Homo sapiens: one gene and its partners. The protein of the gene in region 1 interacts with the protein of each later gene in a pairwise test. Each region holds a gene or a part of one and is shown in the gene's direction. Other genes may lie near its edges.

Region 1 (8,589 bases):
ACTGATGAGTTTTACTTTTGAGAAACTGCTCTGGGTGGGGAAAGATCTGAAGGACTAATTCTCTGTTACTGGAGAGGGACCCTGAGAAGCTGAGCCAAGATCAAATGCCATAGGAATGTAAAGTGGCACATAGAAGGTGAGGGGAGAGGTATGATGACTTCAGAGAGGATTGAGTGGTGCCTTTGAGACAAGAGAAAGGGATTAGGGTGGGTGCGTGATTCTTTTCAACAGGAAGAATCTTTCTTTGAGGTACCTGCTGGAAGCCAGGTGGTATTTAGCAATCTGATGGGTTTGTTATTGAGAAGAGAGGTAAGGGCTGAATACATATAGATTTGGGAATCGCAGCTTAGATGGGATCACCCAGAATGAGGAGGCAGAACAGGAATAAGTAGAGAAAGAGAAGCTGCGGAAGGAGAGGCAGCCACAAGCATAGGAGGAGGAGCCATTAGTGATGGCCTGAAAGCCCAGGGACAGAAGGGAGGGGACCTGGGCATTAAATGCTGGTCAGTGATAAAGAATGGTGGTTACTGGCTGGACATGGTGGCTCACGCCTGTAATCCTAGCACCTTGGGAGGCGGAGGCAGGTGGATTGCCTGAGCTCATGCGTTCGAGACCAGCCTGGCCAACACAGTGAAACCCTGTCTCTACTAAAATATAAAAAATTAGCCAGGCATGGTGGCGTGCGCCTATAGTCCCAGCTACTCGGGAGGCTGAGGCAGGAGAATGGCTTGAACCTGGGAGGCAGAGATTGCAGTGAGCCAAGATCGCACCACTGCACTCCAGCTTGGGTGACAGAGCAAGACTCCGTCTCAAAAAAAAAAAAAAAAAAAAAAAAAGAATGGTGGTTAAAGCAGTTTCACTAGAGAAGTACTTAGCTCATCTTGGAATTGAATTTTTTTTTTTTTTTTTTGAGACAGTGTCGCTCTGTCGCCCAGGCTGAAGTGCAGTGGCATGATCTCGGTTCACTGCAGTCTCCACCTCCCGGGTTCAAGTGATTCTCCTGCCTCAGTCTCCTGAGTAGCTGCGATTACAGGCGCCCACCACCATGCCCGGCTAATTTTTGTATTTTTAGTAGAGATGGGGTTTCACCATATTGGACCAGGCTGGTCTCAAACTCCTGACCTCAGGTGATCCAATTGCCTCGGCCCCCTAATGTGCTGGGATTACAGGCATGAGCCAGTCACCACGCCCAGCTGGAATTAAGTTTTCTACCTTTTTTTTTTTTTTTTTAACTGTGAAATATTTCATACATAGAAAAGAGTAAGGGTGCCGTGGCTCACGCCTGTAATCTCAGCACATTGGGAAGCCAAGACAGGTGGATCACTTGAGGTCAGGAGTTCGAGACCAGCCTGGCCAACGTGGTGAAACCCTGTCTCTACTAAAAAGACAAAAATTAGCCGGGCGTGGTGGTAGATGCCTGTAATCCCAGCTACTTGGGACGCTGAGGCAGGATAATTGTTTGAACCCGGGAGGTGGAGGTTGCAATGAGTTGAGATCGCACCATTGCACTCCAGTCTGGGTAACAGAGCAAGACTCTGTCTCAAAAAAAAAAAAAAAAAAAAAAAAGGAAAAAGAGTAAGCCTGGGCACGTTGGCTCATGTCTGTAATCCCAGCACTTTGGGAGGCCGAGGGAGGCAGATCACTTGAGGTCAGGAGTTTAAGACCAGCCTGGCCAGCATGTGAAACCCATCTCTGTTAAAAATACAAAATTAGCCCGGCAGTAGTGGGGCCCTGTAATCCCAGCTACTGGGGAGGCTTAGGCACAAGAATAGCTTGAACCCAGGAGGCAGAGGTTTTGGTGAGCTGAGATCACACCACTACACTCCAGCCTGGGCAATAGAGTGAGACTCTGTCTCAAAAAAAAAGTATATGTAAGCTGGGTGTGGTGGCATGCACCTGTAGTCCCAAATAGTGGGGAGGCTGAGGTAGGAGGATTGCTTGAGCCCAGGAGTTCAAGACCAGCCTGGGCAACATAAACCCCCATCTCTGCAAAAAATTAAACAAGGATTGGCTGGGCATGGTGGCTCATGCCTGTAGTCCCAGCTACATGGGAGGCTGAGGTGGGAGGATCACTTGAGCCTGGGAGGTCAAGGCTATAGTGAGCCATGATCGTACTGCTGCACTCCAGCCTGGGCCATAGAGCAAGACGCTATCTCAAAAAAATTTACAAAACAAGCCAAAAAAAACTATCATCTGTGTGCTCCCTTTAAAAAATAAATAAATAAAACATTGGCCAGGCGTGGTGGCCCAGACTGTAATCCCAGGACTTTGGGAGGCTGAGGTGGGAAGATTGCTTGAGCTCAGGAGTTCAAGACCAGCTTAGACAACATGGCAAGACCCTGTTTCTACCAAAAATACAAAAATTAATCGGATGTGGTGGCATGCACCTGTAGTCCCAGCTACACAGAAGGCTGAGGTGGGAGGATCGCTTGAGCCTTGGAGGTTGAGGCTGCAATGAGCCATGATTGTGCCTCTGCACTCTAGCTCGGGCAACAGAACGAGATCCCATCTCAAAAAAAAAAAAAAAAAAAAAAAAAGGAATATTACCAGCACCTTTGAAACTTCCTTTTTCTAGAAGTTGATTGTATTGGTTCTTAGCATGCATAAGGAGATTTTAAGCTTAGAACATATTAGCACTTGGTTTAAAGATGTTTTGTGTATGGTTTATACATGTAGAAACTGAGAACGCTTTTAACCAAAAGAGCTGAGAGATTCGTTATCATCAGAAAAGAAAAGTCAGTTACGAATTAGTTGTTAGGGGCTTTGCTGCTCAAAGTGTGTAGTGGACAATAGGCAAAAAGTGAGAAGCATGGTCAAGGGTGTTTGGATGGGCTTGAAAACCCTGTGCATTTTATTTTATTTTATTTTATTTATTTATTTTTGAGTCGGAGTCTCACTCTGTTACCCAGACTGGAGTGCAGTGGCGCGATCTCGGCTCACTGCAAGCTCTGCCTCCCGGGTTCACACCATTCTCCTGCCTCAGCCTCCCGAGTAGCTGGGACTACAGGCGCCTGCCACCACGCTCAGCTAATTTTTTTGTATTTTTAGTAGAGATGGGGTTTCACTGTGTTAGCCAGGATGGTCTCGATCTCCTGACCTCTTGATCCGCCCGCCTTGGCCTCCCAAAGTGCTGGGATTACAGGCGTGAGCCACTGCACCTGCCTTATCTATTTAATTTTTTGAGACGGAATCTCTGTCTGTCGCCCAGGCTGGAGTGCAGTGGCATGATCTCAGCTCACTGCAACCTCCGCCTCCCGGGTTCAAGCAATTCTCTTGCCTCAGCCTCCCAAGTAGCTGGGCCTACAGGCACACGCCACCACACCTGGCTAATTTTTGTATTTTAATAGTGACAGGGTTTTGTCATGTTGGCCAGGTTGGTCTCAAACTCCTGACCTCATGATCCACCTGCCTCGGCCTTCCAAAGTGCTAGGATTGCAGGCATGAGCCACTGCGCCTGGGCAACACTTTATATTTTAAAGGGAAGTTGGGGGAGGGTGCTATTTTCAACCTTGCTCAAAGAACAAATAATTGGGAAGCAATAAATTTTCTGATGAATATGCTTCATATTTCTTTAGACAGTGGGGTCTAATGGAAAGGCTAAGATATCTGACATGGAGCAACATGTATTTATCTCTTCAGTGGAACTAATGTGTAATTTTCAGGGGAGTTTGATGAATAAATGAGTTTGAGAATATAGGGCAGAGGACTTGGAATTTGTGTCAGGGTTATGGCTGGTGAGATTGATTTGGTGTCAAATTTATGAATATCTCTGCAGATACTAACACAGAAAATGAGCCCCAAGGTCACTATAGCAGTATAGTAGTGGAGGGAAATAGAAACTATCTTTATCAAATTTCTACACAGACATACCCCTCACCAGGGAAGCAAGGAAGTTGAAAAGCACACTTTGCCTCCCTAACCCAGGAATTTAGATGGGGGATCAGCAAACTGTTGAGTAAAGGGTCAGATTTTAAATATTTTCAGCTTTTCCATAGAGTCTCTGTCCAACTACTCAACTATGCCTTTGTAGTGAAAAACAGTCATAGACAATACGTAAATGAATGGGCTTGGCTATCTTCTTTTTTTTGTTTGTTTTTAAGATGGAGTCTTGCTCTGTCACCCAGGCTGGAGTGCAGTGGTGTGATCTCAGCTCATTGCAACCTCTGCCTCCCAGGTTCAAGCAATTCTCTTCCCTCGGCCTCCCAAGTAGCTGGGCCTACAGGCGCACGCCACCACACCTGGCTAACTTTTGTATTTTTAGTAGTGACAGGGTTTTTTGTCATGTTGGCCAGGTTGGTCTTGAACTCCTGACCTCAAGTGATCCTCCCGCCTCGGCCTCCCAGTGTTGGGATTACAGGCGTGAGCCACCACACGCCTGGCTTTTTTTTTTTTTTTTTTTTTTTTTTTTTGAGATAGAGTCTTAACTGTTTCAGGCAGTGACGTGATCTTGGCTCACTGCAAGCTCCGCCTCCCGGGTTTACACCATTCTCCTGCCTCAGCCTCCCGAGTGGCTGGGACTACAGGCGTGTGCCACCACACCTGGCTAATTTTTTGTATTTTTAGTAGAGAGACAGGGTTTCACCGTGTTAGCCAGGATGGTCTCAATCTCCTGACCTTGTGATCCGTCCACCTCAGCCTCCCAAAGTGCTGGGATTACAGGCGTGAGCCACCACACACTGGCTAACTGCTTTTAACTATACAAATAATAAAATACTCTTGGATGGAGTCTAAGGTGGAACTGACTGTGCTCTTAATAGTGTCTGAAATTTATATGGTACTTACTGGACTGTTCACAGGCTCTCTGTGGCTCTTGAAATAGCAGGGGCTGGGTGTGATGGCTCACACCTGTAATCCCAACACTTTGGGAGGCCAAGGCGAGAGAATTGCTTGAGGCTAGAAGTTCAAGACAAGCCCTGAAAACATAGTGAGACCCCCATCTCTACAGAAAATTTAAAAATTGGCTGTGTGTGATGGCAACTGCCTGTAGTCCCAGCTACTCAGGAGGCTGAAGTGGGAGGATCACTTGAGCTTGGGAAGTGGAGGCTACAGTGAGCTGTGGTTGTGCCACTCTGCACTCCAGCCAGGATGACAGCAAGACCCTGTCTCAAAAAAAAGAGAAAGAAATAGAAGCAGGGATATACTTGAAGGGGTATGTGTGTGTTCATGTCGGTACATTGGATGCTTGGTGCTGCTCGGTAATTTTGAATGCCTCACATGCATTATGCCATTAATTCTCATACACCTGACAGATGCAGGGTTCGTCCCTAAGGCTGATTAGCTCATTATGAGTGAAGAGTTTAGAACCAGACTCCCTGAGTGCAAGTCTAACCTCTTCTTTGGCTCCTCATTTGTAAAATGGGGATAATAACAGCATCTACCTCACAGACTATTAAATAATCCAATCTCTTCAAAGATCGTAAACCATGCCTAGCATAGATAATAAGTATGAGCTCTTTATTATTACTCTTGCTCCTACTACTCTTGCTAGCTATTTATTTTTATTTTTATTTTATTTTATTTTATTTTTTTGAGACGGAGTCTCGCTCTGTCACCCAGGCTGGAGTGCAGTGGTGCAATCTTGGCTCACTGCAAGCTCCGCCTCCCGGGCTCACACCGTTCTCCTGCCTCAGCCTCCTGAGTAAGTGGGACTACAGGCACCCACCACCATGCCCGGCTAATTTTTTGTATTTTTAGTAGAGACGGGGTTTCACCGTGTTAGCCAGGATGGTCTCGATCTCCTGACCTCATGATCCGCCCACCTCAGCCTCCCAAAGTGCTGGGATTACAGGCATGAGCCACTGCGCCGGCCTCTTATTTATTTATGTTTTGAGACAGTCTTGTTCTGTTGCCCAGGCTGGAGTGTAATGATGCAGTCATAGCTCACTGCAGCTTCTAACTCCTGGGCTCAAGTAATGCTCCTGCCTCAGCCTCTTGAGTATCTGGGACCGCAGGTGTGTGCCACTATGCCCGGCTCATTTTTTGTCTGTTTAGTAGAGACAGGGTTTTGATATGTTGGACAGGCAGGTCTCCAAGTCATCTGCCTGCCTTGGCCTCCCAAGGTGCTGGGATTACAGGTCTGAGCCACCACGCCTGGTGGATTTATTATTTTTAATTTGGCAAGTCTGTAAGCCCTTTTTTGTTCCTTTTTTTTCAAGAGGCCAGAGGCAGAGGCCTTTGTCATTTTCTGTGTGTCCAGGGAAGTGTGCAGGATGTAAGCCATAGATTAGGACTGGGAGGAAGAGTGTGTGGTGGTTGTGACAAGGGTCCAAAGGAAGGCAGCTTCCGAACTTACTTGAGATTATAAAAATAAATTTAAACCAGGTATCTCTGTGTAATCAAAAGGTTTCTGTAAAACAGAGATGGAGTGTATGTGTGTGTGTATACTTGTAATTTGAAAAGACATTCAGAATAGTAACTTTTGGGACAGTACAGACTACAAAAATTACAACATGATAGAACCTTCTTAACTACTAAGAATATAGAAAGGAAAATAAAGCCAGGCGTGGTGGCTCACACCTGTAATGACAGCACTTTGGGAGGCTGAGGCGGGTGGATCACATGAGGCCAGCAGGAGTTTGAGACCAGCCTGGCCAACATGCCAAAATCCTGTCTCTACTAAAAATACAAAATTTAGCTGGGTATGGTGTTGCACATCTGTAATCTCAGCTACTCGGGAGGCTGAGGCAGAAAAATCACTTGAACACGGGAGGTAGAGGTTACAGTGAACTGAAATTGCGCTACTGCACTCCAGCCTGGGTGACAGAGCAAGATTCTGTCTCCAAAAAAAAGGCTGGGCTCAGTGGCTCACACCTGTAATCCCAGCACTTTGGGAGGCCGAGGCAGGCAGATCACGAGGTCAGGAGATCAAGACCATCCTGGCTAACAAGGTGAAATTCCGTCTCTACTAAAAATAGAAAAAATTAGCGGGGCGTGGTGGCATGTGCCTGTAGTCCCAGCTACTCAGGAGGCTGAGGCAGGAGAATTGCTTGAACTTGGGATGCAGAGGTTGCAGTGAGCTGAGATCCTGCCACTGCACTCCAGCCTGGGCAACAGAACAAGACTCCATCTCCAAAAAAAATGTAGAGGCCGGGCATGGTGGCTCATGCTTGTAATCCCAGCACGTTGGGAGGCCGAGGTGCGTGGATCGCCCGAGGTCAGGAGTTCAAGACCAGCCTGGCCAACATGGTGAAACCCCTTCTCTACTAAAAATAAAAAAAGTTACCTGGGCGTGGTAGTGGGCGCCTGTAATCCCAGCTACTCAGGAGGCTGAGGCAGGAGCATCACTTGAACCTGGGAGGCAGAGTTTGCAGTGAGCTAAGATCACGCTATTGCACTCCAGCCTGGGCGACAAGAGCAAAACTTGTCTCATAAAAAAGGAAAATAATTTATTATAGAGGAGAGTGGTATATTAAGAAGTTTGACAGGCACTGGCTTAGAGTAAGATTTTTCTCTTAGAGTAATTTTCTTTCTCTCTTAAGGTATCCAAGCCCACCAATGGGATCTGTCTCAGCACCCAACCTGCCTACAGCAGAAGATAACCTGGAATATGTACGGACTCTGTATGATTTTCCTGGGAATGATGCCGAAGACCTGCCCTTTAAAAAGGGTGAGATCCTAGTGATAATAGAGAAGCCTGAAGAACAGTGGTGGAGTGCCCGGAACAAGGATGGCCGGGTTGGGATGATTCCTGTCCCTTATGTCGAAAAGCTTGTGAGATCCTCACCACACGGAAAGCATGGAAATAGGAATTCCAACAGTTATGGGATCCCAGAACCTGCTCATGCATACGCTCAACCTCAGACCACAACTCCTCTACCTGCAGTTTCCGGTTCTCCTGGGGCAGCAATCACCCCTTTGCCATCCACACAGAATGGACCTGTCTTTGCGAAAGCAATCCAGAAAAGAGTACCCTGTGCTTATGACAAGACTGCCTTGGCATTAGAGGTAAAATCTGTTCAGATTAGCTTTTTGGGTCCTTTGACATTTGGTTTTAATTTTTAGTTTTAGTTTAGTTTCTGCTCATTTAAGCTTATATTCATGGAATTAGAGCACTGGATGATTTTGGAAGATACGCACTGTTAGCGTTTCATTTTAAAATTTTTTTATAGAGACGAGGTCTCTAATTTTAAAAGAGTTGTTTGCCCAGGCTGATTTCGAGGTCCTGGCCTCAAGCAATCCTCCTACCTCGACCTCCCAAAGTACTGGGATTACAGATGTGAGCCACCATGCCTGGCCCATTATTAGTGTTTCACAGCTTGTTTTGTTCTGTCCTATTCCTTGTTTGCCCCAAATTCTCAGCCTTCTTGCTCTTTCTTGTTCCCAAAGCCTAACAGATTTAGTTTTGCAGTTGTTGGTTTTTCTTCCAGTAAGGAAAGATAATGATTAAGGAAGACCCATGACCTAGAGGCAAAATCAACATATATGGTTCTGTATTTCTAACATTGGAATCAGTTGAGAAATATGAAAATGTCTTAGAATTTCTCTTGAGCTTGGTAGAGGAATGAATTTTTTTTTTTTTTTTTTTTTTTTTTGAGATGGAGTCTCACTCTGTCGCCCAGGCTGGAGTTCAGTGGCTCAATCTCCGCTCAC
Region 2 (8,589 bases), on another chromosome or scaffold:
TAAGAAGTTTTGTGTTGTGATTTGGGGTGGAGGAGTATTCATTTCAATCCTAATATAAGATTTGCTTATTTTTTATGAATATCTTGCTGTCTGTTACAGGAAGCTTATTAGATTTCCTTAAGGAAGGAGATGGAAAGTATTTGAAGCTTCCACAGCTGGTTGATATGGCTGCTCAGGTATCTGTATATATACATGTATCCATTTGAATTAAAAGTGTAAATTAAAATGTGGAATAATCTTACCAGAATATTATAGTATGTGTAGTGAAATGGTGGGATTTTATTTTTATTTTTTATTTTTTAGAGACAGCGTCTCATTCTGTCACCCAGGGTGGAATGCAGTGGTGCACTGATAGCTCCGTGCTTGAAGAGCCTTGAATTCTTGGGCTCTAGCAATCCTCTCGCCTCAGCCTCCTGGGTAGCTAGGACTGCAGGCACAGGCCACCATTCCCAGCTAATTTAAAAAATTATTTTTTTTGTAGACACAGGGATCTCTCTGTGTTGCTTAGGCTAGTCTCAAAGTCCTTGGCTCAAAGGATCCTCCCACCTCAGCCTCCCAAAGTATTGGGATTACCTGGCCAATAATGGAATTTTAGAACTGGCAGGAACGTCAGAGATAATCCAATGTGAGCTCTTAATGATACAGATTAATGAAGTATCAAAAGATGAGAGGTATCTAAAATTCACAAAACTTGTTAGTAACAGAACGAGTATTAGAACCAGCTATCTAACTCTTAGTCCAGTGGTGTCCTGTATCATACGGTTTCTTAGAAAATAGATGTTTCCAGGCCAGGTGCGGTGGCTCACGCTTGTAATCTGAGCACTTTGAGAGGCCGAGGTGGGTGGGTCACTTGAGGTCAGGAGTTCGAGACCAGCCTGGCCAACATGGTGAAACTCTGTCTCTACTAAAAATACTGAAAATTAGCCAGGCGTGGTGGCGGGCGCCTGTAATCCCAGCTACTCAGGAGGCTGAGGCAGGAGAATCGCTTGAACCCGGGAGGCGGAGGTTGGAGTGAGCCAAGATCTCGCCATTGCACTCCAGCCTGAGCAACAAGAGCGAGACTCCATCTCAAGAAAATAGATGTTTCCACAAATGTAAAGTCTATATGTATTTATATTTCAACAGATAATTTTAAGAAAATTAAAATGGATGAGGGCTGTTCCAAAGAAAATATTAGTAATCTAAAGTGTATGCTGAATTTTTTTTTTTTTTTTTTTTTTGAGATGGGAGTCTCGCTCTGTCACCCAGGCTGGAATGCAGTGGTGCAATCTCGGCTCACTGCAAGCTCCATCTCCCAGGTTCACACAATTCTCCCGCCTCAGCCTCCCGAGTAACTGGGACTACAGGCGCCCACCACCACCCCCAGCCAATCTTTTGTATTTTTAGTAGGGACGGGGTTTCACCGTGTTCGCCAGGATGGTCTTGATCTCCTGACCTCGTGATCTGCCCGCCTCGGCCTCCCAAAGTGCTGGGATTACAGGCGTGAGCCACTGCACCTGGCCTGAATTTGTTATTTACTATAGTCCAACACAAGAATTAAGATGGTATATATACAGTTTAAAATGGGACTTTTTTACTCTTCTGACTTTTTGTTTTAAATATATAGTGAAAACTGTTAAAAGTTTCTCTTCAGATATGTGGTAGGTATTTGAGAGGCCTTATTATTGGCTTTGGTTGACATGCTGGTTTTGGAATCTTACCTCCTAGCCTCCAAATGTCCACAGAATCTGACAATTCAGAAAAGCTTTATACTGAGAAACTATACATAGGCAACAGGCATATGCCACGCCAGTTCATGCTTCTGAGTTAGACACTCTATGGTAGGGGAGGTTGGCAATCCATTTTTGTTTTTTAAAAAAAAAAAAAAATTAGGTTTTGTGAGCCACATCCAATCTGTCATACTTTTTTCTTTTTACAACCCTTTAAAAATGTAAAAACCAGGCTGTGCGAGATGGCTCCTATAATCTCGCTTTGCGGGGCCTGGGCAACATAGTGAAACCCCATCTCTACAAAAAAATACAAACATTAGCTGGGTGTGGTGTCGCATGCCTAAGTCCCAGCTACTCACTAGGCTGAGGTGGGAAAATTGCTTGAGCCCAGAAGATAGAGATTGCAGTGAGCCACGATTGCACCACTGCACGCCAACCTGCGTGACAGAGTGAGACCCCGTCTCAGTCAATCAATCAAAATGTAAAAAACAGTTTTAGTTCTCTGGCTGTGCAAAAACAGGCTGCAGGCCACTTTTGGCCTACAAGCTGTAGTTTGGGAACCTATACCTTGTGGTTAATACCTTTATCACCATGTCATCTTAGGTTGTGCCTGATAGAGACCTTGATGAGCTTGTATCCAGAGGTACTAAATTACCTTGTGATTTACCTCTTCTCCTAACCACAGACACAAGAAGACATTAGGAGGGTTAATCTTGGTCTTCAGAGTAATGTTAGGTTTTATTTTTTTTGAGGCTGAGTCTCGCTCTGTTTCCCAGGCTGGAGTGCAGTGGCACAATCTTGGCTCACTGCAACCTTTGCCTCCTGGGTTCAAGTGATTTTCCTGCCTCAGCCTCCCAAGTAGCTGGGACTACAGGTATGTGCCACCACACCCAGCTAATGTTTGTATTTTTAATAGAGACAGGGTTTCACCGTGTTGGCCAGGCTGATCTCGAACTCATGACCTCAAATGATCCACCTGCCTCGGCCTCCCAAATTAATGGGATTATAGGTGTGGGCCACCGCACCCAGCCAGTGTTAGATTTTTGAAATCTGAATTTAGCCTGCATTTTTATTATGTTTTCTGGTTTTCCTGTTATCTTCTAGACTATACCCTGTTACCATCATCTCCTTCTAAAATAATATGATTTTCAGTGACACAATTTGATATTAACCATAATTGTCTTCTCTCTGCTTCCCTTTGTATCGTATGTCTTGTGTTTTTTGTTTTTCTCTTTCCAAGATTGCTGATGGTATGGCATATATTGAAAGAATGAACTATATTCACCGAGATCTTCGGGCTGCTAATATTCTTGTAGGAGAAAATCTTGTGTGCAAAATAGCAGACTTTGGTTTAGCAAGGTTAATTGAAGACAATGAATACACAGCAAGACAAGGTAAAATTACTTTTACATAAAAGCTTGTAATGTGTTGTGTGTTTTGCTTAACTCTCTTGACTATACAGGGTTTTCCAGAATAAGAATTGTTTTAGCTTCCCTCAGAAGAGTCATAGAGACATTGATTTCATTCATAAAATCATGTACTGCTGTGGCTTTCTGATAGTTATTTCCTCCAAGAAAGAACTTGACTAGGTATCCTTTGCATTATACATAGAGCAAGTAGTAGCCTCTTTACACTTCTTTTGACATGACAACAAATATATTTTAATTTCTTTCCTAGAAAGGCCAGAGGTTCTCAGTCAGAGGAGATATTGCCCTGTACCGCCACTCACCAGGGGACATCTGACAATGTCTACAGACTTTTTTGGTGGTTACAACCTGGGGGCTACTGCTTGACATCTAGTGGGTAGAGGCCAGGTATACTGCTGAACCTCCTACAGTGTACAGAAATGTGCAGGCAAACCCCCCCTTCCCCCCACAACAGAATTATCAGGCCCAAAATGGTAGCGGTGCTGAGATTGAGAAACCCTGCTTTAGACATAGTGCTTTCTTTCAACCTCCATACTTCTGTACAGTTACCTCCATCTGGAATGCCTTCCTATCTGTAATGTTTGTTGTTGTTGTTGTTTTTCGAGATAGGGTCTCCCTCTGTTGCTCAGGCTAGAGTATAGTGGCGTGATTTCAGCCCACTGCAGCCTTGACCTCCTGGGGCTCAGGTGATCCTCCCACCTCAGCCTCCTGAGTAGCTGGAACTACAGGTGCACACTACCACGCCTGACTAATTCTTTGTATTTTTTGTAGAGACGAAGTTTTGCCATGTTGCCCAAGCTGGTCTCGAACTTCTGGGCTCAAGCAGTCCTCCTGCCTTGGCTTCCCAAAGTGCTAAAATGGCAGGCGTGAGACACCATGCCCGGCCTGTAATCTTTACATGTGAAAATCCTAACCATTCTTTAGGGCCTAATTTAGCTGCCACTTTTTTTTTCAATAGTTTTTGGGAAACTAGTTCTTTAGTGGTGATTTCAGTGCACCCATCACCCAAGCATCTTGCACTGTACCCAATATGTAGGTTTTTTTGTTTGTTTTTTTGAGACGGAGTCTCACTCTGTTGCCCAGCCCAGGCTGGAGTGTAGCGGCACGATCTCGGCTCACTGCAACTTCCGCCTCCCAGATTCAAGCGATTCTCCTGCCCCAGCCTCCCGAGTAGCTGGGATTACAGGCTCGTACCACCACACCCAGCTAATTTTTGTATTTTCAGTAGAGACGGGGTTTCACCTCCAACATGTAGTCTTTTATCCACCCCCCAACCTTTCCCCCTTACTCCCCAAAGTCCATTATATTACTCTTATGCCTTTGTGTCCTCATAGCTTAGCCCCACTTTTAAGTGAGACCATACAATATTTGGTTTTCCATCCCTGAGTTACTTCACTTAGAATAATGGCCTCTAGCTCTAAGTTTCTGCAAAAGACATTATTTCATTCCTTTTTACGGCTGAGTAGTATACCATGGTGTATATATGCCACATTTTTTTTTATCCACTCATTGGTCAATGGTCATTTAGATTGGCTCCATATCTGCAATTGCGAATTGTGCTGCTATAAACATTTGTGGATGTATCTTTTTCATATAATGATTTTTTTTTTTTTGCTTTGAGACACAGTCTCAATCTGTTGCCCAGGCTGGAGTGCAGTGGTACAATCTCAGCTCACTGCAACCTCCACCTCCCAGGTTCAAATGATTCTCCTGCCTCAGCCTCCCCTGTAGCTGGGATTACAGGCACCTGCCACCAGGCCCGGCTAATTTTTGTATTTTAGTAGAGACACGGTTTCACCATGTTGGCCACGCTGGTCTCAAACTCCTGACCTCAGGTGATCCACACGCCTTGGCTTCCCAAAGCGCTGGGATTACAGGCGTGAGCCACCACACCTGGCTGATTTCATTTCCTTTGGGAAGATACCCAGTAGTGGGTTTGCTGGATTGAATGGTAGTTCTGCTTTTCGTTCTTTAAGGAGTTTCCATACTGTTTTCCATAGTGGTTGTACTAATTTACATTCCCACCATCAGTGGAAAAATGTTCCCTTTTCACCACATCCACACCAACATCTATTGTTTTTTTTTTTTACTTATTCATTATGGCCATTCTTACAGGAGTAAGGTAGTGTCTCACTGTAGTTTTAATTTGCATTTCCCTGATGATTAGTGATGTTGTATGTTGTAGTTGCTCCTGGTTTTTTTTGTTTTGTTTTGTTTTTGAGATGGAGTCTCACTCTGTCACCCAGGCTGGAGTGCAGTGGCGCGATCTTGGCTCACTGCAAGCTCTGCCTCCCGGGTTCTCGCCATTCTGCCTAAGCCTCCCGAGTAGCTGGGACTACAGGTGCCTGCCACCAAGCTCGGCTAATTTTTTTTTTTGTATTTTTAGTAGTGACGGGGTTTTACCGTATTAGCCAGGATGGTCTCAATCTCCTGACCTCATGATCCGCCCACCTCGGCCTCCCAAAGTGCTGGGAATACAGGCGTGAGCCACCGCGCCTGGCCAAGTTTTGCTTTTTTGCCCAGACTGGAGTGAAGTGGCATGATCTTGGCTCACTGCAACCTCTGCCCCCCAGGTTCAAGCAATTCTCCTGCCTCAGCCTCCCGAGTAGCTGGGATTACAGGCATGCACCACCACACCTGGCTAAGTTTTGTATTTTTGGTACAGACAGGGTTTCACCGTGTTGGCCAGGCTGGTCTTGAACTCCTGACCTTAGGTGATCTGCCCACCTCGGCCTCTCAAATTGCTGGGATTATAGGCGTGAGCCACTGTGCCCAACCACCTGCCACTTTTTAAATAAAACATTTTGTAATGGTGCCAAGGAAAATTGATCATCTGTTTGTCTAAATATCTAAAGAACTCTGTTTTAAAACACTATCTACAAACACATATAAATAACTTAAAGAATGTAAGACACCTATAATATTATTTCTGCAATAAGTTTATAAACTTCATGAAAGCCATGCTTTTTTTTTTTTTTTTTTTTTTTTTTTTGAGACGGAGTCTCACTCTGTTGCCCAGGCTGGAGTGCAGTGGCGCAATCTCAGCTCACTGCAAGCTCCGCCTCCTGGGTTCACACCATTCTCCTGCCTCAGCCTCCCGAGTAGCTGGGACTACAGGCTCCTGCCACCTCGCCCAGCTAATTTTTTGTATTTTTGGTAGAGACGGGGTTTCACCATGTTAGCCAGGATGGTCTCAATCTCCTGACCTCATGATCCACTCACCTCGGCCTCCCAAAATGCTGGGATTACAGGCTTGAGCCACCGCGCCCGGCCGAAAGCCATGCTTTTTAGGTTTCCATAGTGATTAGCATAATGCCCTCCACAAAAAAGATATACAGTAAGTATTTGAGTTAATTAACATGGACTTTTAAAAGTAGTACAATAAAATTTTCCAGAATGATATAAAAAGTAGGAAAACCCATAAACATTATAACTCAATAGAATATTCACTCATCAACCAATAGTTAACTACAGCTATTAGGTGCCAGACTGTACTTAAAAGTTACACATATTATAACATGTATCTTTGGCTTACTAGAGCTTCAACCTCTATTTTCTTAAATTGTTTTCTGTTCCCACAGCCAACTTATTTTTTATATCATCAGCTGTCTAATCAGGAAGAAATGTGATTTATTTCAATATGAATTTTAAAAATTAAAGAATTTTTATCCCATGTATCTTGTACATTTAAAGAATTGACACTGATGACTACAGTAGAGATATTGACAGAACATTAGCCCTGCATATGCTATGTTTACACAAATAGATTTTTAAAAAACAATTAAGCAAGATGGTCAACATTATTTTAGGTGCAAAATTTCCAATCAAATGGACAGCTCCTGAAGCTGCACTGTATGGTCGGTTTACAATAAAGTCTGATGTCTGGTCATTTGGAATTCTGCAAACAGAACTAGTAACAAAGGGCCGAGTGCCATATCCAGGTAAGCTTGCATTTTATAGCTCTTGGTTATCTCATGAGTGGCTTTATCAGGAGTTTATTAGGAACAGAATTGTAAGCGGGGAAAAGGCCTTTATTTCTTCTCATAGTCCCCCTGCCTCTCCCTCTCCCCACTCCTTCCCTTTACTGTGGCATTGGATGGGTAACTGTGGCATTGGACGGGTAAGTCAGTGAAAGCCACGATCCTTGACAGGGTGAGCACATGAGATAGGCCCCACATTCACCTCAGCTTTCTCAGGACATTTTCCAAAGGGGCCTCTTACTGTTCTCTCAGATAATAAACATATCTTAAATATCCTGGCTCATCCACCCTATACCCTAAATAACTGTTCTTTCCCAGTAGTGTGATTGGTGTTTTGTTTTTTTTTTTTTTTTTTTTTTAAACACAGTCTTGCTCTGTCACCCAGGCTGGAGTGCAGTGGTACAGTCTGGCTCACTGCAACCTGTCTCCCGGGTTCAAGCAATTCTCCTGCCTCAGCCTCCCAAGTAGCTGGGATTACAGGCACCCACCACCACACCCAGCTAATTTTTTGTATTTTTAGTAGAGATGGGGTTTTGCCATGTTGGCTAAGCTGGTCTCGAACTCCTGACCTCAGGTGATCCACCTGCCTAGGCCTCCCAAAGTGCTGGGATTACAGGCGTGAGCCACCGTGCCCATCATGGTATATTTTTTTAAATATGTACTTGCCTTGTTTTCTTCAGTAGATTATTTTGAGATTCTTTTCTTGTTTTATTTCTCTAACCTATTTATAAACCAGCACTTTAATAAATATATCTGCCATTAATAAAGAGGAAAAATGAAAGTGTTTCCCTTTCAAAATTAAGAGACTTTTTTTTTTTTTTTTTTTTTGAAATGGAGTCTCGCTCTGTCGCCCAGGCTGGAGTGCAGTGGCACGATCTCAGCTCACTGCAGCCTCCACCTCCCAGCTTCACGCCATTCTCCTGCCTCAGCCTCCCGAGTAGCTAGGACTATAGGCACCCGCCACCACGCCCAGCTAATTTTTTGTATTTTTAGTAGAGACGGGGTTTCACCGTGTTAACCAGGATGGTCTCGATCTCCTGACCTTGTGATCTGCCCGCCTCGGCCTCCCAGAATGCTGGGATTACAGGCGTGAGCCACCGTGCCTGGCCTCAAAATTAAGAGATTTATATAGTTTCTAGGGGGAAGGAGAAATTTTAGCTCACTTGAAATTCAGCGATCAGTATTACTTTAGTTTGTTACTTCTAAACTCTTGTACTGAAGTATCCTAATGTTGAGAGTGAAAGCATATAAAATTTAATCTTTAGGAAAAACTGTTTTGCTAATCTTATGGGTTTTGCATGTTATCTAACATATTCCTCTTCCCTACAGTTCCCTCCAGCTGTAGATCTAATGCCATCAAATTTTATCACCCACTTTGTCTGGTTGCTGTTATTCACTGATACCATTCAAGTTATTCTCATTTAATGACTCACCATTGTCCTCTCCAACAAAACTCCTCTCCTGTCTTAACTC
Region 3 (9,433 bases), on another chromosome or scaffold:
AGATGAAACTTACTGGCATGAAACTTCAAAGCAAAATAAGATACTTAAAAGAAATGAAGAAAACCAATGATGGGGTTGCTTGTGCTCTGAGACAGCATAAATATTTGTGTCCAAAAAAGAATAATGGCATTAAGATTTGGAAAACCTGGCTTCCTATCACTTTATAAAAGAGAAATAAATTAAAAATCAAGTATTTTGAACATAAACTAATATTGGTTAACAAAGTGACACAATTGCAAAACAATCTTATTTAAACTATCCTGATAAGAAAACAGTGTCTGAACTATGGGAGGAAGTAATTTCTCCAAACCACAATTGGGGTAATTGCAAAAATCTGTTTTTATTTTTGGGCACCACATATTTTTCTGAAGTTGACAAGACAGCATCTTGAATTCAGTCACATGGATGGTATGTGAGGCTTGTTACTGCATTTGCCAGGAACATGTTGATGAAGCCATTGTCAGTGAACATAGATAAGAGTCTCCTTAGATACAGGCTCACATGGGGGAGAAAAGCATTTTAAACGATGACAGAAAAATGTTTTCCTGTTACTGATAACTTAAATATCTCATTCACTTTTGGTTTTAGAACATAGCCAAACTGAAGTTTAAGTTACAGGCTCATGCATATATCTGTTCTTTTGCTCTCGCTCTTTACCTTTTACTCTTATTTTAATTCCTGATAGCTCTGATTGTTTTTTCTTATTTATGTTTGACCTCCATTTTTTATTATATGCCAGAATTTATTTAAAATCATTTAAATCATTTGTAGGATGAGGTGAAGTACTGTATAATAAATGAATGAATATGTGGATTAGTGTAATATTTACTAGGCTTTCAAAAATCGTTGCTAGAGTGGAGTATTTTAGCTTAAAAACACAAAAGATATTTTCAGTGTTAACTACTATCTTATGAAAAAGGAGAATATAGATTTCTGTTGTTTCAAAGGACAGAAATAAGGCTAGTATGTGGAAATTACTAGGAGATAGATTCCAACTCATTGTGATGAACATTTTTTTGAGTTAGTCTTAAAAGGGCAATAATAGGCTGCCCTGCAAAGCATTAGGTTTTCTATCACTGTTACCATATTTGAACAGAAGCTGATAGCCCACTGGTGAGGATGATCCTCCATTGAGTGGGAGGCTGGACCAGATGAAATCTAAAGCTTTCTGTACTTTTGAGATTTTAATTAAATACATATCATTGTCATCAATGATAATGGGATTCTATAAGAACATTTTTTTTTTTTTTAGTAATCAGCATTAGTAATCATAATAATGGCACTAATGGCCATCATAACCTAGTGTGGGACTTTACAGTTGCTTTTATCTAGGGCCTTATAAAAAGATATTTGTATAAGTATTTCTTCTCACCCCAATTTTAATGATAAGAAAATTAGAATGTTTCAATGTGAAATAACATACAAGGGTAATGAAATTGCCTACGCTGACCCTAAGTCAGCAAAAATTAAAGAGGCCACTAGTTAAACCACTAGCAGTGATTTACTAGCAAATGTTGACCTTGTTATGGCAGAGCCTTAGAAGGTCTGGGATGGATGGCCAGAAAAGTTTCAGCCAAGTAAGAGCTAGCTAAGATATCATGGATATTGAATTTGAACTTCCAGTGTTTAACAAAATGTCATGCTGCAGAGCTTTAGGAATCCAGTAAATACTGAAGTCCAGAATTCCTTGTAAGAGGAGAGAGGATCCTCAGGAACTCTCTCTCTCCTTCCCACTTCATCTGTGCCTTACTCGTTCAGACCAGCTACTTTCAATGACAAGGCACATTACTATAGCAATCACTTAGAGACCCATGGGAAGAATGTTCTAGGCCAGTAATTCTCAACCTTGATCCTACTGACATTGGGGACTAGATAATTCTTTGTTGTGGGAGACTGTCTTGTCCATTGTAGGATGTTTAGCAGCATCCCTGCCCGCAACTGTGACAACCAAAAATGTTTCCAACCATTGCCAAATGTCCATGGGAGAGAAAACCACCCCCAGTTTAGAACTAGTCTTCCAGACATAGAGAATAGAGAATGCAAAGCCTTGAACAGCATGAGATGTTGTTGCGGAAGCAGGAACAGATCATTCAGGGGTCTATAGGCCTTGGCAAGAATTTTGGATTTTATTCTATGTGAATGAAAAGTCATTGAACAATTTAAGTTGGGGAGTAACATGTCAATATTTTTAAAAGACTAATTGGCTGCTGTGTGGGAAATAGATTTAAAACCATGAGGATAAATGACATCTCAGGATCAGGCACTAAGGCACATCAACATTTAAAGCAGATTGAAAAGTACAAGAGAAAAGGAGGCTGAGAAAGAGAAGCCCATGAGGCAGGATGAAAGCCATAAAGGAATGATGTCACAAGAATTGAGATGAAGATGTCAAGGAGGGAGTGGTCAATTGTGACTAGATTTTTCTGGTTGACTCATCCCTGAGTCACAGCCTAGAGATTTCTCTTCTTGCCTAGCTATAGTTTCCCCTACAGTTCTTCTGTACCTTATTCCAAATGAATCATTCTGCCCCAGAACTTACAAAGGCTTCCCATTGTAGTCCTGTACTGGCCTTGTTCAATCCTGTTTCTAAAACTTTGCTCTTTTAAGTTACATATCTTCCTCAATGCCTTCAAATACACTTGCTTATAATCCTTCCAAGCTGAAGTTCATATTTGATCTCCCACAGAAGCCCTCTCCAACTTTAGCCCACACAGATGACTCTATTCAAAAAAATCAACAAAACTTCCAATTTTTACTCCATCCAATAAACACTGCTTGTTAAGCATCTGTGCTAGGCACTGTGCTATGCCTTGGAAACATGAAAAAACAGAGAGCTTAGGTAGTAAGGAAATTCACTTGTCAGTCCTTATGGATGCATTTAGGAAAAAAAGGATTCTGTCTAGTATCTAACCCTGAGTCAGTCATTGATCTACTACTTCCCTATGCTATATTTCACTCTACCCCACCCAGCTCAGTCATGGTTAAGCTGTTGATTACCTCCTGGAACTACTGGGTTACAGCTCCGCAGGACACAATGTTGCTATTCCTACCAGACATTAGTGGCAGGGTGCATCTAGCCACAGGGTAGCACATTTCTCAAAGTCTGAGTTATAATCAATCCAGAATAACACTAAGAGGTGTGTATATGTGCTGGTGGTGTGAACTTTGGCTAAGCCTCAGCTGAATGATCTAGGGTATTCTTTGGCATGCCAAGCCTGCTCCCTTTCATGATCTCTTTGCCTGTGTGAGGTGCAGAGATTGGTCTTCACAAATTTGGGTCCAGCCAATCAGAAACTAGGGAATCAAACCCACACACGTCCCTCAAGGACAAATAGTAAGAATTAAAATATTTTAAATCCTTGTTGTGACTTTCCCAATTACAAATTTTCTGGGAGCAACAGCTGTCCTGCAATGTCAATTTTCCATTTTTTCATGTTTGCTTCAGACTCTGCCCTCTTGATGCTTAAATTGGGTCCTATTACAACTCTACCATTTAAGGATCGGTACATAGATATGCTAAAAACTGGTAGAAAGTATGAAATTATATAATTTTAAAAGTGTATAGTCAGGGTTTAGTCAAATTCTTGAGCAGGGTGAACTGAAGGGTATTCTTCTGTAATTGCTAAATAAGGAAGGGAGGTAGTATAAGCCATTATTATCCACAGTTCAAATTATTTCTCAAGGGTGGAGGTGGGGGTTACTCTGTCAGGTACATTTGCAGAGAAATAAATATAGTACAACATAATTGTTATAAAAATAAGTCCCAAAAGGGATGACAATTTTGTCTCAGAAAGTTATGAAAAGATCCATGGAGATAAGCATTCGAGAGAGAACCAAAGGATCTTGAGAGAACCAAGAACATAGAAAGCAAGGACTTTAGAAAGATTAATGTGGAGGAACTGGAGGAAGAATGGCGATGAGTTTAACAGTGTGATCATGAAAGGCCCTGCCGGTGGGTAATGAAAAATTCTTAGCAGAGAAGTATAATGATCGTATTTTCACGTTAGAAAAATTATTAATAGAATGGAGGTTGGACTGGTGTGGGAAATAACTAGAGGATATCTTGTGAATATTGCAATAGTACAAGGAAGATGAGTCATAAGAGATGGTGATTACTTGAAGGACTAAGACAGTGAGAGTGGAGGGGTGGACCTGAGAGATACTTAAGGAAATAAGAGTCAAAATTTGATATTAGAAAAGAGGAAATGAAGGAAAAGTAACAGGGGTACTCATAGATTTCTGACTTGGGCAGTTGCGTGTCATTTTCTGAAACAGGGAATGGAAATGGTGTAGGTTCCAGATGGGTGAAGAGGGACATGGCATCAGGAACAGATTATAGTAAAGATGTCCATGTCAATTTGGGACATATTTAAGATACTGTGTGAAATCCAAAGGATGTTGCTTAAAAATGTCCGACGTATAGATATACACCTGAGAGTTCTTGGTGCACAGGACACGTGGTAGGTAAATCCATGATGGGAAAGAGACTGCTCAAGGAGACATGGATTAACATTAAACAGAAACAGCAAAAGAAAATGGAGTGCTGGCGAACAGAGACCACGCAGCGGAAAAACAGTATTTAAAGTGCACCAGAAAAGTAGCTGCAGAATGAGGAGAAAATGACATTAGAGAAACGGAGGGAAGAGTTAATGGTGTGCTCTTATTGTTTTAAAAATGCAGAGTAGGATCTTTTTTTCCCCCACCCCTCCCAAAGTTTTTAATATTTTGAGGGCAGAAACCACGGCTTTATTTCATCCTATTTCTGACAGTGCCTAGTTCAGTAAAGGGAACATAGTAAATGCTCAATAAATTCTTAATGATTCAGCCTCAGACATTACAAACGGGTCCTATTTGTCTCCTGTATCAACGACCAATATTTCTTCCCCCTCTTTCTTCAAATAAACTTTTAGAAGTGCCTCTGGGTTTACTGAAATCCATTTTTACAATTAGTATGTTCAACTTACACCAGCTTTGGAATGAGTTCCAAAACCTTCTTTATTTACTTGAGAGATATTCGGTATCAGTGACGATGGGTTTTTCCTTTACTACTATTCCTAAGAAAGGTTTATTCAAAATCAAAGTTTAGCCCAATTCCCAGCAGTACCTTTTAACTTAAAACCTGTTCGAAAGCACGGCAAAGAGGCGGACAGACTTTTCTGACAATCATTAACCAGGTCAACAGACTTATTAAAGCTATCTAATTAAAGGCAAGAAACAACTGCTTGGGGAATACACATTCACGCCACAGGAAGCCATTTAACTGCAAATAGATCGTCTAACGACTCACGGAAATCTAAAGGAAACTGCGTGTCCGCATGGGGTTCTGATGCCAAACTACGGATTGTTCTCTCAGGTAACACCTAACCTAAGTGAAGTCCTTGGTGGATCCGCGTTCTTGAGCTTAGAAAATACCGAATGAACTACCAAGAGCACCAGAATAATCGCCTCCTCCTGAAGAACTAGCCTCTTTCTCACCACACCAGACAGCACGTCCTACAACCACCTTTCCCCCAACAACCAAACTCCAGCGCCAAGCTGCCGCTTTTGCAGAAATGTTCTATCTCTTGGTCTCGCGCGATCTCGCGCCTCCGAGGAAGCCAACTGTATCGCGCACGCCATCAAATCCCCGCGGGAATAGAATTCCGCAGGTCCAGAAAGCCGGGAAATCGCGAGCGGAGGCGGAGTTACCTCGGTGAGCGTGAAGGCGGAGCCCGCTCCGAGGGGCGGGCTCGAGGCGGGGAGAGGGGCGGGGCTCCAGGGACCTGTTGATCGCAGGTGTCACTGGCCTGACTGGTCCCTGGGTATTGGGGCGTATGCGCATGCTCCGCTCACAGGGTCGGGCTCTGGGCGGCGGAGACCAGCCGCCTGTGCTCCAGTTCCCGGTGAGCCTCGGTACTGTGGCAGCAGTCAGTGTGTCTGGCGGGTGTCGGCGTGAAGCGGGGCTGGGCCAGCGGGAGGTAGCTCTGTGGGAGTGGAAGGCCTGTATTTCTCTACCTGGACCGCACGCTCCTCGCGCAAGGAGGGTAGAGCTCAAGGTAAGTCTCCGAAACTAGCCCTCTGGTTGGAGATCCAGAGACCTGCGACCCCCGCGGGCCTGACCGGGACACTCTCATTCTAGCCCCAGAGCTCGTCTCTCCCCTCGCAGCCCGGCGACCTCCTATGGCCCCGGCCCTCTGGGCACACACACACTCTCTTTGCTGGGCGGTTCAGACGCCAGAGGTCACGCAGCCCTTTCGCCCCTTCTCGCCGCGTCTGGCGGAGATGCCTCTGGCCAGGCTGGAGGCGCTCGCGAGGCGGGAGGAGGTGCTGTACTTGTTGGGTCCTGGATGTTATTGCTGCCGTGTTTGAGGGCGGCGACAAGCTGGAGTCCTGCTGGGATTGTGAGTAATACCCTTACTTGGCTCCTGCCCCTGGCTGTCCAAGCCACATTGCCTCGCCTGAGCACACAGTTTTTTACTTAAAGGGGTCCAGGATGGTTATGCTCCCTCCTTGGAGAAGAGAGATGACTGGACTCGTGAGATTCTTGGGGTGGTGGTTTCTCAGTGGTAGTGGTGATGTATATAAAGTTAATGTTTAGCTTCTAAAGGGCGGCTTACGGGGCATTTACCAAACTATTTTTAAACAGTGTTGGAGAACAGGAAGTACTTGCACAGGTGTAATAGGGAGGGTTTCTAAAACCTGCAATCTGAGGATGTTTTGAGGTTTGTAACCCTGCTACAAGGTTTTCTTTATCAATGCAAAGTATGCAGGGAATTACCAGTTGGACAGCAAAGTTTTCCGAAAGTTTCCTTATCTGGAAATAGATATATATATATATATATATGTGTGTGTGTGTATGTATGTATGTATAAATATATATATTTGCAAAGAATATCTAAGGCTATTTTTGAGGTAGGTTTAATAGTAAACTTAACCTGTAGTCCCAGCTACTCGGGAGGCTGAGGCAGGAGAATTGCTTGAACCGGAGGTTGCAGTGAGCCGAGATCGCGCCACTGCATTCCAGCAGGGGCGACAGAGCCAGACTCCGTCTCCAAAAAACAAACAAACAAACAAAAAAACGCAGTACACTTAGGAAGGTTTTTGTGATTAAGATCTGATTCACTTTTAGTTATTAAAAGAAAAGGCTTGCTGATTTTCACTATTTAAAATGAGTAGCAAGTGCTAACACAAAATGTCTGTTGGAAATGAACTTTTAGTTACATTGATAATTGTTATTTTCTGTTCTTTTCAGTTCCGTGATGATGGTCTAAGCAAAGACCCTTCGTCCTGTTAAAGATAAATTAAAAAAAAAAAAAAAAAACCAAAGGGAACAAAACTTACTCTGCAAAAGTAATATATGATTTACCTGCTGTTGTCATAAGAATTCCAAATAGACAAACTCGGTGTAAGTAGGAGTTAATTATAGTCTGAGAAATAAGGTTTTTGTTTTGTATCTCAAAGGCTTTTAAAATAAGCTCCTTGATACAATTTGTGCAGGTTCGTGTTTACTGGTGATAAACCATGAAAGTGATTTATTAAGATTTTTTCATTAATGAAACTGGGAGGTTTGTGTATTTCTTCCTAACGTGTAAAAAAGAGACTAAGAACTGGCCTTTCCTTTTTCCTAAGAATTTTAACAAATATTTTTAAAAATGTATGTAGATTGTGTAAGTTCATGGAATTTGATACTAATAATCAATTCGTTAATATTTTCACTAAACAATGCATAAGATAGTTTTAAAAAAGATATTTTAATGGGAAGGTAGACTTTTCCAACTAGTGTATTCTTTTCCTTAAAAAAAAAAAAAAGAAAAATCACAATACTCTTAAGACCTGCCATATGTGCTGTGATTCAAGTTCTTTTATATTGTTTAATGTTAGATGTTTATTTTAAACTGTGCAGTATCAAGAAATACAACTTTGGTACCATATGGTTTACAAGTTTGTTTTAGCAAGACAAAGTTTAAAAATGAAAATTTTATCTCATTTAAGGTTATATGTAGCTTTAAAAGCCAAAATCAGAATTATTTTCCCTCCTGGAATTGTTTGGAACTCTCTTACTTACTGGGGTAGGAGGGGGTACATTGCTTTACCCTACAACTTTCCGAAAACACAGTTGATCTTTATAAAGTGATGGAATAAACTATCCTACAAAGATGTTTGGTTACTAAAATACTTAGAAGATCCTTTTTGACAGCTTTAACTGTAAGGTATTTCTTGTAGAACTCAAAAACAACCTGTAGAAAGTTGGGTAGTTTATATATTGCATCTGGAAGCATTTTTAACACAGTGTGCTAGGTGTGCTAGGGCCAAAATGATTGCCAGTTTCGCTTACTCTGCTCATGAGCTCTTGTTTTAAGGAGGGAAGTATGCTGATTTATGTTATCTTTGCAGAGCTAGGTAGAAATTAATGATGTTACAAATATAGTATTATTATATTGTTAATTTTATACTGATGATTTTAGAAAATTTTGCATTATGGTATTTGCACATGATAGGAACAAGAAACGGATGCAACCTGCTCTACTACAAGTAAAAATCCTCAAAGGTTAAATTTTAAATAGCTTTATGTAATATTGTAATCTTTGCAGGTTATACATTTTTTAAAATTAATAATAAGAATACCATAGATACCATGTACAGTATATAGAATATTTAGGCAAATAATATTCTGTGCTCTTCCAGGTTAACTCATATCCTCTATCAGGAATTGTTGAACCAAAAGCCCATGATTAGAACTGTGGTCTGTGGTTAGAATTGAGTTTTAATATAATTGGTTTTCTTTGTGATCTTAGTATTTTTTTTTCTTTTTCTTTTTTTTATGCTATGAATTTTATTTTGTTCATTTACAAACATTATTCATAGGGGGCTTCATTAGGCCACCAAAGATGTCCATGATACAAGAAAAGGCTACAAACCATTGCATCTGGCTAAAGAATTATGATTTTACATGAGACTTCAGAAGAGTTGCTTCATATACTCTGCAGTTCATCAGAATTTTTTCTGCAAAATAAACCTTATTCCAATATCTTAGCTATTTTTATGAACAAAATCAGTTATTTGAGGTGTCATGGTATTTTTGAATTAATTTGAAGATAACATTAGTTTTCAATTTTACACATATTACAAAAAAGAAGTTTTAAGAAATACCCTTCCTTTGGAAGTTTTTTACTGCTGCGCTTTTCTGAGTTAGAAGTATTGAATAAACATTATTGACCTCCTATTGTATGCTAGGCATAGTGCTAAACACTAGAAAGTCAAAAGTTAATTAGACAATGTTGGCTGGGTGCTGTGGCTCACGCCTGTAATCCTAGCACTTTGGGAGGCTGAGGCAGGCGGATCACTTGAGGCCAGGAGATTGAGACCACCCTGGCCAACATGGTGAAACCCTATCTGTACTAAAAAATACAAAAATTAGCCAGGCGTGGTGGTGCACACCTGTGGTCCCAGCTAC
Region 4 (5,042 bases), on another chromosome or scaffold:
CTTCCACTTCTGGGGCCACCTCTGGATCCCGTTCAGAAAACCACTTTATTGCAATGCAGAGGTTGAGAGGAGGACTTGGTTGATGTTTAAAGAGAAGTTCCCAGCCAAGGGCCTCGGGGAGCGTTCTAAATATGAATGAATGGGATATTTTGAAATGAACTTTGTCAGTGTTGCCTCTTGCAATGCCTCAGTAGCATCTCAGTGGTGTGTGAAGTTTGGAGATAGATGGATAAGGGAATAATAGGCCACAGAAGGTGAACTTTGTGCTTCAAGGACATTGGTGAGAGTCCAACAGACACAATTTATACTGCGACAGAACTTCAGCATTGTAATTATGTAAATAACTCTAACCAAGGCTGTGTTTAGATTGTATTAACTATCTTCTTTGGACTTCTGAAGAGACCACTCAATCCATCCATGTACTTCCCTCTTGAAACCTGATGTCAGCTGCTGTTGAACTTTTTAAAGAAGTGCATGAAAAACCATTTTTGAACCTTAAAAGGTACTGGTACTATAGCATTTTGCTATCTTTTTTAGTGTTAAAGAGATAAAGAATAATAATTAACCAACCTTGTTTAATAGATTTGGGTCATTTAGAAGCCTGACAACTCATTTTCATATTGTAATCTATGTTTATAATACTACTACTGTTATCAGTAATGCTAAATGTGTAATAATGTAACATGATTTCCCTCCAGAGAAAGCACAATTTAAAACAATCCTTACTAAGTAGGTGATGAGTTTGACAGTTTTTGACATTTATATTAAATAACATGTTTCTCTATAAAGTATGGTAATAGCTTTAGTGAATTAAATTTAGTTGAGCATAGAGAACAAAGTAAAAGTAGTGTTGTCCAGGAAGTCAGAATTTTTAACTGTACTGAATAGGTTCCCCAATCCATCGTATTAAAAAACAATTAACTGCCCTCTGAAATAATGGGATTAGAAACAAACAAAACTCTTAAGTCCTAAAAGTTCTCAATGTAGAGGCATAAACCTGTGCTGAACATAACTTCTCATGTATATTACCCAATGGAAAATATAATGATCAGCAAAAAGACTGGATTTGCAGAAGTTTTTTTTTTTTTTTTCTTCATGCCTGATGAAAGCTTTGGCGACCCCAATATATGTATTTTTTGAATCTATGAACCTGAAAAGGGTCAGAAGGATGCCCAGACATCAGCCTCCTTCTTTCACCCCTTACCCCAAAGAGAAAGAGTTTGAAACTCGAGACCATAAAGATATTCTTTAGTGGAGGCTGGATGTGCATTAGCCTGGATCCTCAGTTCTCAAATGTGTGTGGCAGCCAGGATGACTAGATCCTGGGTTTCCATCCTTGAGATTCTGAAGTATGAAGTCTGAGGGAAACCAGAGTCTGTATTTTTCTAAACTCCCTGGCTGTTCTGATCGGCCAGTTTTCGGAAACACTGACTTAGGTTTCAGGAAGTTGCCATGGGAAACAAATAATTTGAACTTTGGAACAGGGTTGGCATTCAACCACGCAGGAAGCCTACTATTTAAATCCTTGGCTTCAGGTTAGTGACATTTAATGCCATCTAGCTAGCAATTGCGACCTTAATTTAACTTTCCAGTCTTAGCTGAGGCTGAGAAAGCTAAAGTTTGGTTTTGACAGGTTTTCCAAAAGTAAAGATGCTACTTCCCACTGTATGGGGGAGATTGAACTTTCCCCGTCTCCCGTCTTCTGCCTCCCACTCCATACCCCGCCAAGGAAAGGCATGTACAAAAATTATGCAATTCAGTGTTCCAAGTCTCTGTGTAACCAGCTCAGTGTTTTGGTGGAAAAAACATTTTAAGTTTTACTGATAATTTGAGGTTAGATGGGAGGATGAATTGTCACATCTATCCACACTGTCAAACAGGTTGGTGTGGGTTCATTGGCATTCTTTGCAATACTGCTTAATTGCTGATACCATATGAATGAAACATGGGCTGTGATTACTGCAATCACTGTGCTATCGGCAGATGATGCTTTGGAAGATGCAGAAGCAATAATAAAGTACTTGACTACCTACTGGTGTAATCTCAATGCAAGCCCCAACTTTCTTATCCAACTTTTTCATAGTAAGTGCGAAGACTGAGCCAGATTGGCCAATTAAAAACGAAAACCTGACTAGGTTCTGTAGAGCCAATTAGACTTGAAATACGTTTGTGTTTCTAGAATCACAGCTCAAGCATTCTGTTTATCGCTCACTCTCCCTTGTACAGCCTTATTTTGTTGGTGCTTTGCATTTTGATATTGCTGTGAGCCTTGCATGACATCATGAGGCCGGATGAAACTTCTCAGTCCAGCAGTTTCCAGTCCTAACAAATGCTCCCACCTGAATTTGTATATGACTGCATTTGTGTGTGTGTGTGTGTTTTCAGCAAATTCCAGATTTGTTTCCTTTTGGCCTCCTGCAAAGTCTCCAGAAGAAAATTTGCCAATCTTTCCTACTTTCTATTTTTATGATGACAATCAAAGCCGGCCTGAGAAACACTATTTGTGACTTTTTAAACGATTAGTGATGTCCTTAAAATGTGGTCTGCCAATCTGTACAAAATGGTCCTATTTTTGTGAAGAGGGACATAAGATAAAATGATGTTATACATCAATATGTATATATGTATTTCTATATAGACTTGGAGAATACTGCCAAAACATTTATGACAAGCTGTATCACTGCCTTCGTTTATATTTTTTTAACTGTGATAATCCCCACAGGCACATTAACTGTTGCACTTTTGAATGTCCAAAATTTATATTTTAGAAATAATAAAAAGAAAGATACTTACATGTTCCCAAAACAATGGTGTGGTGAATGTGTGAGAAAAACTAACTTGATAGGGTCTACCAATACAAAATGTATTACGAATGCCCCTGTTCATGTTTTTGTTTTAAAACGTGTAAATGAAGATCTTTATATTTCAATAAATGATATATAATTTAAAGTTATACTAAGGTTTCAGCATTTTTGTTTTTAGTTTAATCATAAGAATTAAAGCAATCCTGTTCTATTTACTTTCTTAGCAACATTTGTAGGACTCTATATTAGGCCTTTTTTTTTTTTTTCCTGAGACGGAGTTTTGCTCTTGTCATCCAGGCTGGAGTGCAGTGGCGTGATCTCAGTTCACTGCAACTTCTGCCTCCCGAGTTCAAGCAATTCTCCTGCCTCAGCCTCCCAAGTAGCTGGGATTATAGGCGCCTGCCACCATGCCTGGCTAATTTTTGTATTTTTAGTAGAGATGGGGGTTTCATCATGTTGGCCGGGCTGGTCTCGAACTCCTGACCTTAGATGATCTGCCTGCCTCGGCCTCCCAAAGTGCTGGGATTACAGGTGTGAACCACCACGCCTGGCCTTTATTAGGCTTTTGATGAACCAATAGAATATCTAAGGTTTAAGACATTATATGAGCTAGATTGTTCCACGACACAGTATTTGACTTAAAGATGATTGGCACTTGGCTCATCTTTGGTCTCATCATTTTTTTGATTGTTCATCTTTATCCTGTGGTGTTTTCTTCCCCTGCATAAGGAATACAGGACTGCAGTAACTCTGTACAACATTCAACTGTCGTAAAAGTGTAGGAAGTAAAATGTTAAATTATTTTTTTCACCGTGTCTTCTTCCCTGTCCCTGTCCTGTTTCCAAGAGGCAGAGCTGCACCACTTGGTGTGTCTTTTAAACTTCCAGTTCCCTTTGTATGCATCTGTGTATATATATTCCCATACACACATCTCTACGTTTGCTTCATATCTACCTAAATGGGTTCTCACTTTATGTAATCCTTTGTAATGTTCTTTTTTCTTTCCTTTTTAAAACTATTTATTAAAGCAGTTTTAGATTTGCAGTAAAATTGAGTAGAAGGTACAGAGATTTCCCCTGTGTGCCCTGCCCCCACACCAACATAGCATCTCCATCACTAACATTCTCCACCTTTGCTACAGCTGATGAACCTACATTGCCAAATCATTACCCATAACACAGTCCACAGTTCTGTTTTTTTTTTAATGCTGTTTTAGCGATCTCTGTGAAAAGTATACAGAGGTATTAGCTCCATTGGATCCCATTATGTAAATGTACCATAATTTATGCAATCATGGTCTTGTAAAATGGATTTATAGTTTCCAGTTCTTTGCTATTAAAATGATTTCATGAACATTTTTGCAACATACATATTTGCATACAAAAATGTGTTTTGTAGAATGGATTTCTACAAATGAAATTGCTAGGCCAAAGGGTGTGCAGAAATAAATTGATGTTGAGCTGAAGTCTTCAGATAGGATTGATACATAAGTTCTTGAGCATCTGCACGTGAATCACTGGCTTTGCACATTACATGCAGTTTTCTAGTCTCTGCTCCACATTGCCCAGGAATCATGGTCTTCAAAATAGGATTGGAAGAAATACAATGTGGTAAGTGTGAGAGAATGTGGGTTTTGTGTTCTGAAGCATACTGAAGCAAGTGACTTTAGGAATTTAAAAAAATGGTACAACTCACCTTATTTTGAGCTCACGGATAATGAAAATTGATTATGTTGTTAATAATCAGAATATAGCACCCTATTCCAATATAACTCCTTATCCAAATTCAAGTAGCCTGCAGCTGGAAGCATACTTCTTTGGAGTTAAACCTCCAAGGAGGGATTCAGAAGATCATGGCATATGAGAGGCAAGACTAGATTGCAGCTCAGGACAGAGCAGCATGCAGCAGCTTGCATTGTGAATTTTAGCTCCAGATCCTGAGAGGACCCACAGACCCTCTGATGGAAGTGGACTTCTCCTGCAGGACCGGGGAGACACCCCAAATATTGTGAGTTGCCCCAAATGCGGAAGTGGTACAGGGAGACCCTCCTCTACCGAATGCGCAGTCCCACTGGAGCAGCTGAAGTTTTGCTTGCGGGAGAAGTTTCTGACTTTACCTCAAGCTGAGTCAAGTTAGAGAGCTGAGCAAAATACAGGGGTGGAGGAAGCAGCAGAAAGGCCCTGGGAGCTCGCTGAGTCCCCAAGCAGCCCATTCCTGCCTGGCACCACAGGGATCCAT

The links.
Region 2: the proteins of CRKL (region 1) and YES1 interact in binary tests that used the Homo sapiens proteins (3 or more experiments, as listed by UniProt).
Region 3: the proteins of CRKL (region 1) and USP53 interact in binary tests that used the Homo sapiens proteins (3 or more experiments, as listed by UniProt).
Region 4: the proteins of CRKL (region 1) and PDGFRA interact in binary tests that used the Homo sapiens proteins (3 or more experiments, as listed by UniProt).

Annotation. Positions count from the first base shown.
Region 1 is NC_000022.11:20,926,301-20,934,889, forward strand, and holds part of CRKL (crk-like protein), read left to right. Parts: intron 1-7,478; coding exon 7,479-7,944; intron 7,945-8,589. UniProt on the Homo sapiens protein: May mediate the transduction of intracellular signals.
Region 2 is NC_000018.10:731,322-739,910, reverse strand, and holds part of YES1 (tyrosine-protein kinase Yes), read left to right. Parts: intron 1-99; coding exon 100-176; intron 177-2,949; coding exon 2,950-3,103; intron 3,104-6,945; coding exon 6,946-7,077; intron 7,078-8,589. UniProt on the Homo sapiens protein: Non-receptor protein tyrosine kinase that is involved in the regulation of cell growth and survival, apoptosis, cell-cell adhesion, cytoskeleton remodeling, and differentiation.
Region 3 is NC_000004.12:119,206,839-119,216,271, forward strand, and holds the start of USP53 (ubiquitin carboxyl-terminal hydrolase 53), read left to right. Parts: upstream 1-5,874; 5' UTR 5,875-6,035; exon of another isoform or gene 6,036-6,380; intron 6,381-6,395; exon of another isoform or gene 6,396-6,701; intron 6,702-7,231; 5' UTR 7,232-7,384; intron 7,385-9,433. UniProt on the Homo sapiens protein: Deubiquitinase that mediates 'Lys-63'-linked deubiquitination of tight junction proteins, such as MARVELD2 and LSR, and which is involved in the survival of auditory hair cells and hearing.
Region 4 is NC_000004.12:54,295,293-54,300,334, forward strand, and holds the end of PDGFRA (platelet-derived growth factor receptor alpha isoform 1 precursor), read left to right. Parts: 3' UTR 1-2,953; downstream 2,954-5,042. UniProt on the Homo sapiens protein: Tyrosine-protein kinase that acts as a cell-surface receptor for PDGFA, PDGFB and PDGFC and plays an essential role in the regulation of embryonic development, cell proliferation, survival and chemotaxis.